Linked DNA regions of Homo sapiens: region 2 is linked to region 1. A link means that fine-mapping ties the variant in region 1 to the expression of a gene that starts in the linked region. Tissue or cell type: tibial artery. Region 1 holds a variant in brackets; the other region holds the start of a gene. All regions are shown on one strand. Distances are from middle to middle.

Region 1 (2,752 bases):
AGGGTTTCACCATGTTGTTCAGGCTGGTCTGGAACTCCTGACCTCATGATCCGCCCACCTCGGCCTCCCAAAGTGCTGGGATTACAGGCGTGAGCCACCGCACCTGGCCAGCTCTCCCCTTTTTTCTACCTTTTTTTGTTTTGTTTTGTTTTGTTTTGTAAGAGATGGCCTCATTCTGTCATCCAGGCTGTAGTGCAGTGGTGCAATCATAGCTCACTGCAGCCTCAAAACTCCTGGGCTCAAGTGATCTCACCTAAGCCTCCCAAGTAGCTAGGACCACAGGCATGTGCTACCATGCCCAGTTAATTTTTGTCTATGTGGAGATGGGTCTTGCTGTGTTACCCAGAATGATCTTGAACTCCTGGGCTCAATCGATCCTCCCTCCTTGGCTTTCCAAAGTGCTGGTATTACAGGTGCAAGCCGCTACACCCAGCTTTTCTCCCTATATTATCCAGGCCGGTGTGCATTGGAATACTGTGGCCTTGAACTCCTGGGCTCAAGCAATCCTGCCTTAACCTCCTGACTAGGCTACAGGCACGCACCACCATGCCTGGCTCTCCTTTTTCTACCCTTTATGCCAAGTTCTCAACGTAGGCAAGCAGACGGGACTTGTTGAATTGTGGTTTGGCCACACCTTGGCCAGAGTTTTGCCAACCATGAACAACAACAACAAAAAGAAATAGTTGGCCGGGTGCAGTGGCTCATGCCTGTAATCCCAGCACTTTGGGAGGCCAAAGCGGGTGGATTACCTGAGGTCAGGAGTTCAAGACCAGCCTGACCAATATGATGAAACCCCATCTCTGCTAAAAATACAAAAATTAGCTGGGCGTGGTAAAGCACGCCTGTACTCCCAGCTACTCAGGAGGCTGAGACAGGAGAATCGCTTGAACTCAGGAGGCGGAGGTTGCAGTGAGCTGAGATAGCGCCATTGCACTGGAGCCTGGGCAACAAGAGCGAAACTCCTTCTCACAGAAAAAAAAAAAAAAGAGTGCCACCTTCAGTAGCTGGTCCCTCCAGGATCCATGCCTCATTTTGTGACATTCCCATGCCTGGCCAACTTCAGCTGCTTTGGGTTGTGGATCGTGCTTAACGGGACTGGGAGCTTCAGCGTGGAGTTTGTTCCCATAAAGAGAGCTGAGAACCTTCGTGGAGCTCATTGCCTAACCAGCATTTATTCGTAAATTGGGTTCCTGCATCAGTCTCTGAGGCATTGATTCCTTTTTTTTTTTTTTTTTTTTTTTTTTTGCTTCTTTTTTCTTTCTTTGAGACATGGTCTCCCTCTGTCACCCAGGCTGGAATGCAGTGGCATCATCATAGCTAAGTGCAGCCTTGAACTCCTGGGCACAAGGAATCCTTCTGCCTCAGCCTCCGAAGAAACTGGGACTACAGGTGCACACCACCACACCCAGCTAATTCTATTTTTTTGTAGACACGTGGTCTCCCTATGTTGCCCAGGCTGGTCTCAAACTCCTAGCCTTAAGCGGTC[G/C]TCCCACCTCAGCCTCCCAAATGGTTCTTAATTATTAAGAATCTGGTATATAGGCTGGACACAGTGGCTCACGCCTATAATCCCAGCACTTTGGGAGGCCGAGGTGGGCGGATCACGAGGTCAGGAGATTGAGACCATCCTGACTAACGGTGAAACCCCATCTCTACTAAAAAATAGAAAAAATTAGCCAGGCATGGTGGCAGGCGCCTGTAGTTCCAGCTACTCGGGAGGCTGAGGCAGGAGAATGGCGTGAACCCAGGAGGTGGAGCTTGCAGTGAGCCGAGATAGCGCCACCGCGCTCCAGCCTGAGCGACAGAGCAAGACTCCTTCTCAAAAAAAAAAAAAAAGAATCTGGTATATGAACTCTGAGCCCACTTCTGTGAACAGTTAGACAGTTCACAACCTTCACGTTACGAATTTCTTAAAATGTGATTTTCTAGCCAAGACAGAACAACCACTTAAAGGAGTGTCATGCTTAAGCTATGGTTTTGGGGTTTTTTGTTGTTGTTGTTTTTTGACAGAGTCTTGCTGTGTTGTCCAGGCTAGAGTGCAGTGGTGTGATCTCAGCTCACTGCAACCTCTGCCTCCTGGGTTAAAGCGATTCTCATGCCTCAGCCTCCCAAGTATCTGGGATTACAGACGTGTGCCACCACGCCAGGCTAATTTCTGTATTTTTAGTAGAGATGGGGTTTCACCATATTGACCAGGCTGGTCTCAAACTCCTGACATCAAGTGATCCGCCCGCCTCAACCTCCCAAAGTGCTGGGATTACAGGTGTGAGCCACCGCACCCAGCCTGAGCTATAGTTTTTGAGAGAATTGAGATGTGGCAGCAAAGTCAAGTGATTTAGTGTGGTTTTTTCCCAAGAGGATCACTGCTTGAAACAGCAGGGTGGTCAAGGATCAGGGTCATTAATCATCCCAGGAGACAGCAGGAGGAGCCTGTCGAGGGTGGGCTCTCAGCCAATTATGTCTGCCACCTTGTACAGCACATTCCCAGCAGTCACACTGCTCACTGCTTACACTGTCAGCAGGGCAAATGATTTGTTAAGTCAGGGCCTCAAAGGGTTATCGTCTTCACTGAGAGTTTCCTGTGGCAAGCACAAGTTTCTCAACCCACTCATTTCTCATATCCTTCCTTATGGAATATGGCTGCAGTGATGCTTTTAATGCAGGGAGTCAGTTCAGCCATCTGGTCTCCACAATAATTTGTAGAAAGATACACTTTGGGGAATCACAATCTAAAAAGTAGCTGAAACTCTTAGTA
Region 2 (2,500 bases), 63 kb after region 1:
CCTGTGTGGCTGGGACCCAGACTGTCTGACCTGGGGGTTGCCTGGGGACCTCTCCCACCCGACCCCTACAGAGCTTGAGAGCCACAGACGCCTGGCTTCTCCGGCCTCCCCTCACCGCACAGTTCTGGCCACAGCTCCCGCTCCTGTGCTGGCACTTCTGTGCTCGCAGAGCAGGGGAACAGGACTCAGCCCCCATCACCGTGGAGCCAAAGTGTTTGCTTCTCCCTTTCTGCGGCCTTCGCCAGCCCAGGCTCGGCTGCCACCCAGTGGCACAGAACCGAGGAGCTGCCATTACCCCCCATAGGGGGCAGTGTCTTGTTCCTGCCAGCCTCAGTGTCTTGCTTCTGCCAGCTCCTTCCCCTAGGAGGGAAGGGTGGGGTGGAACTGGGCACATGCCAGCACCACTTCTAGCTTCCTTCGCTATCCCCCACCCCCTGACCCTCCAGCTCCTCCTGGCCCTCTCACGTGCCCACTTCTGCTGGGCCTTTAGCCCTAGAACCTGCAGGTGGTGGGGGCGGCTACCAAGAAGGAACAGAGGTCTCTGGGGAGGAGTCTGGGTGGTCCAGCCCTGATGATTGGCCCCACCTCCTGCTGCCCCATAACCCTCTCTTCATTTCGGCTTTTTCATTTACCCTCATTTAGAGCCATTTGCAGAGATTTAGAAAGATTTACAGTAACGAATGGATTCCTATATAAAGATTATTTTTATACTTTTTGCAGCAAAAGGAAATTGTAATATTTGTACAGTGTTCAAGTGAATAAAAACCATGCCTAAGGCTAGCTCTGATGTGGTTCTTTGGGGACCCTCCTTGGGACTGTGCTGGACTGGCAGTGTGATTGGGTGGGTCACCTTGCTGGAACTAGGGGTGGGGCGGCCTCCGGCAGCCTGCCCTCCCCGCCCCCACCTGCCGCACCTTGGTGTGGGGCGGGGCCGCCTCGGCGGGGCGGGGCAGGCGGAGCCGTCCTACCTTCCTACCCCCAGACTCCAACCCGGAACTAACCTCGGCTCCCTTGGGAAGGCCGCGTTGCATGGCCAGGAGCAGCAGTCTGGGCCGCGAGTGCGGGACACCGAGGTCAGGTCTCGGAAAGGGAGGACCTCCTCGTCCCCAGGGGCCCCAGGCCAGGTGCACCCTTGGCCGCAGGTGCACGGTCTCCGGAAAGTGCAGGCGCCCACGTCCCAGCTGGACCATGGCGCCTCCGCGGAACGTGGTGAAGATTGCCATCAAGATGCGTGACGCCATCCCGCAGCTCATCCAGCTGGACCAGGTCACCCGGCTGGTCCCGCCTCCATCTGCCCCACTGCCCCACCTCCCGGTAGCCCCCTGGCCCTCGGGGCAGCCCGCCCCACCCCTCCCCCCAGGCTCCTCCCCATCCCTCCCTGCCCAGGCCGCGAGAATGACCACTCCACTTGCAGGCGAAGCCCCTGGCCGCTGTGCTGAAGGAGGTGTGCGACGCGTGAGTGCTGCCGGGCCAGGGCCTGCGGAGGGCGGGAGGGCAGGAGGGGCGGCGCCCCCTGCCGGCCTCGCTGAGCCTCGTGCCCCTCAGGTGGAGCCTGACGCACTCTGAGCGTTACGCCCTGCAGTTTGCGGATGGGCACCGGAGATACATCACCGAGAATGTGAGTCCCCTCTCCCCAGCCCCAAGCTCGGCCTTCCGACCCCTCTAACCCACCTGGCCCCGATAACTCTGGCTCTTCATCCCACTACCGGAGCGCGATCTGTTATTCACCCCCAGCCGCCCTCACCGACACCCCAGTTGATCAGTCCTCGGAGCCCTCCCTGACCTCGCTGCCTTTTCTGCTGTCTTCTCCAGAACCGCGCGGAGATCAAGAATGGCAGCATCCTGTGCCTCAGCACGGCCCCAGTAATGCCCCTCCCGTCCCGCCTTCCCCATCCCTGCCCCTTTGCTCCAGGTCCAGAGGCCCCCCGCCCCGGAGGCCCCCGCCCCAGCCCTGCCTTGCGCCACCTAGTTGACGCCCGGGGCCGCACACTTCCAGGTCCCACCCTTACCATGCCCAGCCTCTTCACCTCTGCTCCTGCTCCGTTCCTGCCAGGACCTTGAGGCTGAGCAGCTCTTGGGTGGGCTGCAGAGTAACAGTCCTGAAGGGCGCCGGGAAGCCCTGAGGCGCCTTGTTCCGCTGGCCTCGGACATGATCTTTGCCAGGGAGGTCATCAGCCGTAATGGGCTCCAGATACTAGGCACCATCATTGAAGATGGGGACGAGTGAGCACAGGGATGTGTGGGCTGGGGGAGATGGTGGGTCTTTCTGGTCCTGGGGTGGTCCTGCTCAGCCCCAGATGTCCCCCCTCCAGCCTAGGAGAGGTGCTGGCCCTCAGCCTGAGGGCCTTCTCAGAGCTCATGGAGCACGGCGTGGTGTCCTGGGAGACTCTGAGCATCCCCTTTGTGAGGAAGGTGGGTGGGCTTTCCTAGGGCAGCGGGTGGGGGCAGTGGAGCAGTGGGGCAGTGGTAGACCCGGTCTTCCATGGGGGTGAGGTGGTGA

What was found. PIP is the estimated chance that this variant, and not a neighbour inherited with it, causes the effect.
Region 2: ELMO3 starts here. The variant in region 1 is fine-mapped to the expression of ELMO3 in tibial artery (GTEx, PIP above 0.99). The same link has a PIP of 0.9 or more in atrial appendage, fibroblasts and skeletal muscle.

What each region holds. Positions count from the first base shown.
Region 1 is chr16:67,135,337-67,138,088 of GRCh38, forward strand. All of the region lies in intron 8 of PHAF1 (phagophore assembly factor 1), which reads left to right. Among named protein-coding and RNA genes, the nearest start is that of B3GNT9, 14 kb to the right of the region's middle. The variant G/C (reference allele first, on the strand shown) is at 1,487.
Region 2 is chr16:67,198,139-67,200,638 of GRCh38, forward strand. ELMO3 (engulfment and cell motility 3) reads left to right here and starts at 993. Exons shown (of 20, transcript NM_024712.5): 1 at 993-1,266; 2 at 1,415-1,455; 3 at 1,546-1,618; 4 at 1,813-1,863; 5 at 2,054-2,223; 6 at 2,313-2,412. The coding sequence starts at 1,189. It overlaps E2F4 (E2F transcription factor 4), which reads left to right. Exons shown (of 10, transcript NM_001950.4): 10 at 1-780. RefSeq lists a silencer at 329-388.